Regions from separate parts of the Homo sapiens genome. Here regions 1 and 2 are each linked to region 3. The links come from fine-mapping of genetic effects on gene expression. A gene starts in region 3. Each other region holds a variant in brackets. All regions are shown on one strand. Distances are from middle to middle.

What was found. PIP is the estimated chance that this variant, and not a neighbour inherited with it, causes the effect. A credible set is the group of variants that fine-mapping cannot tell apart.
Region 1: its variant is the best candidate, but not a certain one, in a credible set for the expression of ADD2 in whole blood (INTERVAL, PIP 0.80).
Region 2: its variant is the best candidate, but not a certain one, in a credible set for the expression of ADD2 in whole blood (INTERVAL, PIP 0.89).

What each region holds. Positions count from the first base shown.
Region 1 is chr2:70,823,419-70,826,177 of GRCh38, forward strand. It overlaps a transcript of CLEC4F not described here and a transcript of CD207 not described here. Among named protein-coding and RNA genes, the nearest start is that of CLEC4F, 4.2 kb to the left of the region's middle. The variant A/G (reference allele first, on the strand shown) is at 1,306.
Region 2 is chr2:70,664,235-70,666,993 of GRCh38, forward strand. All of the region lies in intron 15 of ADD2 (adducin 2), which reads right to left. Among named protein-coding and RNA genes, the nearest start is that of ADD2, 100 kb to the right of the region's middle. The variant C/T (reference allele first, on the strand shown) is at 1,331.
Region 3 is chr2:70,767,063-70,769,821 of GRCh38, forward strand. It overlaps ADD2 (adducin 2), which reads right to left and starts at 1,138. Exons shown (of 16, transcript NM_001617.4): 1 at 824-1,138. RefSeq lists enhancers at 273-838, 839-1,404, 1,814-2,378.

The DNA of each region.
Region 1 (2,759 bases), 56 kb after region 3:
TGTCTTGGTTTCTGTTTCCCCATACACAGGAAGGGCCCAGGCTGGACCTACTCAGGACCTATTTCCTCCTGAGGCCTGAGAGCTGAGGGAACCTCGAAGGCAGAACTCTACGGATCCCTTGCCCAACTGGAAGGTCAGAGTCTGGGCCAGGAGAGGGGCATAGTTCTTCCCTGGCCTCCCCACCCACCCTCCGGGCCCTAGCTCTTCTATTTCCCACAGGAACACCATCTACCAGCAGGGCAGAAAAACCAGGGGGTTGCTATGTCTTCACTGAGAGGCTTTCTGTTCTCTGGCCAGACAAAAACAAATGGGCATTAATACAAGAACTGGCCAGGCACGGTGGCTCATGCCTGCAATACCAGCACTTTGTGAGGCCGAGGCAGGTGGATCACTTGAGGCCAAGAGTTCAAGACCAGTCTGGCCAACATGATGAAACCCTTGTCTCTATTAAAAATACAAAAACTAACTGGGCATGGTGGCAGGTGACTGTAATCCCAGCTACTCGGGAGGCTGAGACAGGAGAATCATTTGAACCTGGGAGGCGGAGGTGGCAGTGAGCCGAGATTGTGCCACTGCACTCCAGCCTGGGTGACAGAGCAAGACTCCAAAAAAAAAAAAAGAAAGAAAGAAAGAAAGAAAGAGTCTACTTGGTGGGACTAAAGCCAAACCAGAGGGAGCCAGAGCCAGGAGAGGGAGAGAGGCGGATTCTTCTTTATGTTTTTTAATCCAGGACATTTTATTTAATAGTAGGGACAGCTTCTTGACATGATGTGAGCACTTGTATTCAGCAGTACAAAGTGTCCTGATTTTACACCCTACAAAATACAGCAACAACAATTCAACACATTTACAGGCCTGAATGCAAACCACCTGGCTTTTATTCCGTTCGTCTCCTAACTGTTCTCCCTGCCTCTCCTCTTACCCCCTCTCAAGTCCTGTCACCATGGTGCAAGCATAATGATCTTTTCAAAAAAAATTAGATGTACACACAAATATTACTTAGCTCTCTCAGCTGGGAGAGGCAATGATGTTCAAATAGCAACAGCCACACAGCCCCCAGGTTTTGATTTCTAACACCATTCTCCAAAAAAAGGAAACCAGGGCTCATTAGAGAAATGGCTGACTCTAGAACTGGGGCAGGAAATACTCAAGATGAGCCTGGAGCATCTTGTAGTACCAGAAAGTAAGGAGATGCTTAGTTACCAAAAAAAAAAAAAAAAAAAAAAAACTGAGGGAAGTATGTCAAAATGACACAGGAACCAATGAAGGAGCTCCCAATGGCCAAAGCCAGAGCAATTTGAGCAA[A/G]AACAAAACAAAAAAACAAATAAAATAGTATTGGATTATAACCCAAAGTGTAAGAGAAATATCTGTGAGTCCATACTGACATAAATGAATGTCTGAGTAAGTAAACAAATAGATAAGTCTCTAGGGCAGAAAATGTCCAAATATTTTATGTAAATATCCCATTCTGAGAAAAGTAGAGTGTAACTTCCTACTCTTTCAGTGTGAACTGCATATAGTGACTTCCTTCCAAAAAGTTCAGTACAGGAAAAGGGAGAAAAGAGTAATTCTGGAGTCAATAAACTTGGCAAACACTACCCCAGCCTGGAGATCAAGGTCAACGCCAACAGTAATGAATTCTATTGATGGTATGTACCCTTCATAGGATGTGATGAGAATGGCCCTTTATCTCCATGGTCTTCCTCCTGAAACTCAGTACCCCAATGTAATCATGAGAAAAACACCAGACAAATTCCATTTAAGGGACAATCTACAAAGTACCTGACCAGTGGGCTCCTCAAAACTGTCAAAGTCTTCAAAAACAAGGAAAGACTGAGAAAATGTCACAGCCAAGAGGATCCCAAGGAGACATGATGGCTAAATGTAACGTGGTATTCTGGATGGGATCCTAGGAGAGAAAAAGGATGTTAGGGGAAAACCAACGAAATCTGAATAAAGTATGGACTTCAGTTAAATATTGGCTCATTAATTGTGACAAATGTACCATACTAATATAAGATGTTAACAATCGGGGAAATGGGAAAGGGTGGGTATATAGAAACTCTCTGTATTATCTTCACAATTTTTCTGTAAAGCTGAAACTATTCTATAATATAAAGTTTTTAAAAAAAATTTTTGAGACAGGGTCTCACTCTATCACCCAGGCTGGAGTACAGTGGCGTGATTACAGCTCACTGCAGCCTTGACCTCCCAGGTTCAAGCAATTCTCCCACCTCAGACTCTTGATTTGCTGGGACTACAGGCACACGCCACCACACACGGCTAAGTTTTGTATTTTTTTTTTAGAGACAGGGTCTCCCTATGTTGCCCAGGCTGGCCTCAAACTCTTGTGATCAAGTGATTCTCCTTGAGTTCTGTGCTCTGTGAACACAGGCATGAGCCACTGAGCCCAGCCTAAAAAGGTATTTAAAAGATATTAGGGATGGCTGGGTATGGCAACTCACACCTGTAATCTAAGCACTTTGGGAAGCTGAGGCAGGAGGATCACCTGAGCTCAGGAGTTTGAAGCCAGCCTGGGCAACATAGCAAGACCTCATCTCTACTAAAATTAAAAAAAAATTAGCTGGGCATGGTGGTGCACACCTGAGGTTCCAGGTACTCAGGAGGCTAAGGCAGGAGGATTGGTTAAACCCAGGAGTTCAAGGTTGCAGTGAGCTGTGATTGTGCCACTGTACTCCAACCTGAGTGGCAAAGGGAGGCCCTGTCTCAAAAAAATCAAAATTAAAAAAAGACATAAG
Region 2 (2,759 bases), 100 kb before region 3:
GTAGGCAGAGGGAGAGTGGAATTCCTTATATAACACAGACCCCATATTTCCAAGACATGTTAGTCAAAAGGGGAAGACCCCTGGTCAGCCCTTTCTAGCAGCCACTGGGGCCCCCAGGTCTTTATTCCACCTGGGAATCTGTCGGGATCGCGGGAATGTTCAAGGCCAGAGTTACTCAGGCCCCAGAAACCAAACCCTCCTGCCACCCTTTCTCCCCCTCCCCACTCTCACTCAACCTTGCTTCCACACAACCTTTCAGATGCCTGGATGGGGTGAGAGTCAGGGAGATTGTAAAACCACAGACTGAAAAGTAGAAAGCAAGGTAAATATTATCTGATGCCTCTCCTCCCCACTGCACAGTTAAGAAGGCTGAAGAACACAGTACCATGGTGGGCAGACCTCGGCTTACCAACTTCCGGTTCAGCTTCTTCTCACGACGGGAACTGAAAGGAGTGTGTGTGGGTGAGCACGTGTGAGTGTGTACAAGTGTGTGTGAGTGTGCAAGTGTGTGTGTGGGTGTGTGAGGGTGTGCAAGTGTGAGTGGGCAGGTTGTGTGTGGTGTAAGTGTGTAAGTTTGAGTATGCAAGTGAGATTGTTTGCCATGAGTGTGTCTGTGTGTGTGGTGTGAGCATGTGCGAACCAGTGTGTGTGACAGTGAGTGGTATATGAGTGTGGGAGTGAGCGTTTACAAATGTGTTTGTGTAAGTGTGTGTGAGTGCACATGAGCATATGCGAGGGTGTGAATGTGTGCGAGTGAGTGTGTGACACACCTGTGTGGTGTGTGTGTGATGGGCACATATGAATGCAGTGTGTGTGTTGCCACATCACAAGAAGGAACCCGGCATGCTGAGGTGTATGGAATCGTGGGTGATGTGGAAGGTATAGTCAGTGTTACAGAGGGAGCGAGTGAAGGACTCAGTTTTAGGAGAAGCCTGGGGTCTTAACAGGGGTGAAGTCTGGGGAAGTGCACGGTTACATGGAGGATGGGACAGAGTGGGGTAACTTGTGGACAGTTAAAGTGGACTAGTGAACCACCTGGGCCAGATCTCCCTGTAACAAAGTCTTTGCAACTCCTGACACTGCTGGGCAAGTCAAAGTGCCCCCTCCAGACCACTGCGGAGCACCAGCTCCCTCTTGGTATCAAAGACTTTGGCCACTGCTCCCAGTCTTCCCACTGCCCAGCCCATGTCCTGTCATCCTCATCCAGTGTCCCATCCCGTCCCGCCACGTAATACTGTGGCCATCACTTGGCAGTACTCTTGAGTGCCATAAACCAGGCTGGACACAACCATCTCTCTGTCCACTCTCCTATTCCCACTTCGCCTGCTTC[C/T]TGCCATACCAAGCTGCTGGTCCTGGACCTCTCACTGTCATCCCAGCCCATTCCCCTCTGGAAGGCCCTTCTCTCTCCTCTGTGTCCCCAGCCTTCACTCCATATAATGAATCACCTTGAGTGTTACTTCTTCCTTCAAGTCTCTCCTGATCCTCGTTCCCACTTCCAGGTAGAGTTTATCACTCCTTCCTTTCTGCCTCTGCTATCTAAACTTCCATCACAGCATCTGCAAAACGATCACACTTGTTTTTTTGTTTTTTTTTTTTTCCCGAAACAGTCCTGCTCTGTCGCTTAGAGCTGGAGTGCAATGGTGGAATCTCGGCTCACTGCAATCTCCACCTCCTAGGTTCAAGCAATTCTCCTGCCTCAGCCTCCCAAGTAGCTGGGATTACAGGTGCCCACTACCAAGCCCAGCTAATTTTTGTATTTTTAGTAGAGATGGGGTTTCACCATGTTGGCCAGGATGGTCTCGAACTCCTGACCTCGTGATCCGCCCACCTTGGCCTCCCAAAGTGCTGGGATTACAGGCGTGAGCCACTGCATCCAGCCCACACTTGTTTTTTATGCCTATCTCCTCCCCCTTCTACACTGAAATGAATTAGGGCAAAATTGTGTCTAATGACCTATGTCACTAGCTCACAGAAGGCACTCAGAAAAGGTCTGTGGAATCCATGAATGGTTGAAGGCATGAGCAAATAAATGAATATGTGAATGGATTTATTCTAACCAAGCCAATATCATCACCTAATCTTTTCTTATCTATCCCAGCCTGAGCCTTCTAAGCTGAACTGGATCCACTCATGTAAATGAACACCAGCCCTGAGTGCTGGCCTTTGTCTCCTGTACCTATGCCCTGGTCTTCCCTCTCATCTTCCTGGGCTCTCCAGGGCTCTGCAACTTCAAACTAGACCCTCACTGCAGGGCCTTCACTTGGATGATACATTAGGATGCATTTCTCAAGACTGACCCTTGGCGCTCTCCTCTAAGATGGTTGGGGCACTTGCCTTCTAGCTCCGTGAAGACAACTATGGATAAGAGGGGCTCCCACTTTCTGTCCAAGTGTCATTTCCTGCCTGGTGGCAATGAGTATCTTCACTCCAATGGCCTCCTTCAACCATGCCCCTCATCCATGTCCCTTTGCCCATACCTGCCCTGCTGTCAACCTAAGCAACAGCCTCAGCCCCTGGTGTGTGTCTGGTTTAGGAGAGCAACACCCAAGGTTCTTCTCACCATGTAGAAAGTGGGGGCCACAGATGGTGCATCTGCCATGATTCAGAGAGGTTCCACATCATGAATTGTTTGAGGAGTCATAGCAAATGGAAAATGGGGCTTGGAGGAGCCAGGTTCCCAACTAAGGTCACCACTCCCTCAACTATAGAGTCAGAGACCACTGGAGGGTTCCACTGGCCAAGAGAAGGGACAGGGCTCC
Region 3 (2,759 bases):
CTGATCTGCATCCTAAAGCAGTCTGCCCCTCCCTCCCTTCCCCCCAACACCAGGTAGGCTGTGGTGTGATTTAAAAATAAGCAGACACCGACTCCCGCCTCCGGGACCGGGGATGGCCTCCGCCCCGGCTGCAGAAAGGGAGGGGAGGCAGGGAGAGGAGAGGGAAGATGGAAGAAACAGACTGGCAAGACCCCCTCGGGTACAGTGGGATTTTTCCCTCCAAAGTGGTGGAGCCGCATAAAATCAAAACCCACGAGGCCCGCTCACGTGCCGGTTGCCCCGATCTCAATGTAGGCGGCTGCCGACGCCGCACCTGCTCGGCCGGCCACTGCGGCTGAGCGCCGCGCAGCCAGCGATCGCGAGGCCCCGGGGGACGCGCCCAGCCCCGCCAAGCCCGCCTCGCACCGCTACCCCGGAGGGCGGCGGCCGAGCGGGAAGGAAAGAGAGGGGAGGGGAGGGAGGGGAGGGGAGGAGCGGCCCCGCCCGGCTAGGCGAGGCGAGGCTTGCCGCCCCTCCATTCGGACCCAAAAGAAAGCCCCACCTGTCAGGCGTTACGCTCCGGGCGAGGGTCCCACCATCCCCAAGCAGGGGCCAGTGCTTGCAGCCCCGATTTCCTAAGAGCCTCGGATGCTACATCATCACCAGAAACCTTTAGGCGCAAAACACACCGCTGCCGGCCAGGGCTGCAGCACCGACGCGCTCGGCAACAGACGCGCCCCACCTGGGCCAAGCGGCTCCCGCCCGGCCGAGGGATGCCAGGGTCTCCGCGCCAGGAGACCAGCGACCCCAGGCAGCCCACCAGGCCCGCTCCCCAGACCCTTACCTCCTGCGCGGCATCTTAGCTATCTCCGGTCGGCCACTGCGGGTTGGTTTTGTTATTTTATGGGTTTGGGGGGTGGGGTGCGCTTAAAAAATCCACCCAGCTAATCTGCAGGGCAGCGTTTTCTGCCCATGCTGCAGCCCGCGCTCGTCAGAGCTGCTGGGAGATCCCCCAGCAGTGCAGCGGCTCCGCGGCGGCGGGGATGACTGGCCACCGACGCCGCAGTTCCTTGACAAAAGGCTCGGGTTCCCGCTAGTCCCTCACAGCCCTGCCGTCAGAATTAAAGCCATTTCCCGCACGAGGCTGGGAGGAAATGAGAGCTCTCCTGGCCCTGCGCGCTGACAAAAGGCCGCTGCGCGGTGCCCACAGCGCCCCCTCCAGCAGGCCGCGCCGGCCGCCCGAGGGCCGCGGTGCTGCAGTGCCCCCGCCCGCAGCGCCCCCCACCGCCCCGCAGCGGCCTCGCCCCGCAGCACCCCCACTACCGCCCCGCAGCGCCCCCCTCCTCCCCGCAGCGCCCCCGCCCGCGCCGCCGCAGACCCCCCTAGCCAGGCTTCCAGCCCCCTTCCACCCCCGCCCCGCACCACTCACTACCCGGGATGGCCAGAGCTAAGCAGGGGAGTCTGTTACTAGGGAGAAAATCTGAAACAGAGCTCCCTTGGGGGAATGTATTCTCCCTGGAAGGAAGAAAGCAAAAGTCTTAGACTTGGAATATTTCTTTTCGTCTGGAAAGGACAGCTAGCCTTCGGAAGATAATTCTATTAGTGATTTTAATAGCAATTGTTTGACTGAATTCCAAACCAAAATTCTCCCTGTCCTGATTCTCACTCCTTTTCAACCAGGACAACATTTTTGTTGTGGCCCTGCCCTTGGGGGCTGTGGACCCAACGCTCTCCAACTCTCACTACATTCTCCTCTCACTCCTTTCCTTCCTCAGGTCTCCCGCCCCAGAAGGAACAGGTGTGTAGTGAGTGGGGAACTGGATAGGGAACCAGAATACTTCGGTTGCCGTCTCAGAGCTGCTCTTAACTAGCTGTGAGACCTTAATCAACCCACTTAACCTCTCTGGGCCTCGTTGTCTTCCTCTGTAAAATGACAGTGTACCTAAGGCACCTCCCATTTCCAATACTTTCAAGGCCTGGCCCTCAGAGAGTAGGGGTGTTAAGAGATAGCTCTGGACTTTTCACCCCCATAATCTCCACCAGTCCCCAAAACTCCCCTCAATCAACATCCTCTCCAAGGGCTTTTGAAAATGTGCTTGTGAAAATGTACAGCTTCCAGAAAAGCCTCTGGCCACTGATCTGAAACCTGATCATGGCCCCTCTGCCCTTCCAGGTTCTGGGGCACCACAGCCCTCAGACACCCCCACAAAAGTCACTGGCCCCCACCACAGTGCTGCTGTGGAACCAGAATCTCTGGAGGTAGGCTCAGGATTGGTAATTTTAACAAGCAGCCCTAGTGATTCCTTTGCACACTAACACTTTAGAAACACCACTCTGAGAGCTACTACTGATTTAGAAAAGAAAATGCTAACGACAACCCTAGATGCCAGGATAAACTTGTCTTTCTGCTTCAGCCCCCCTTCCAAGAAACATACATGCATACCTGGTCCCTGCACCCTCCTTCCACACTCAGAGCTTCTCACTCATTCTCATTCAGAATCACCGAGTCCACAAGACTTCTCCCCATTCTCCTGTCAAAACCTGCTAGAAGAATTACAACAGGCTCAGCCACACAAGATGAAACCCCTTCCCCTCCCCACCCCAGGACCTAGGTCTGTCTGGTCAAAGAAGCCAGGACGTGTTATGTTTATTGAGTCATTCCTGGCAGCCATAGCTCTTTTGGTGCTAATGGGTGATGAGATCTGAGAAACAGGGAACCCCTTCTCCAGAGCTCAGAAGTCACAGGTAAGGTGGGCTCTATATCTTAATAGAACCCCCAA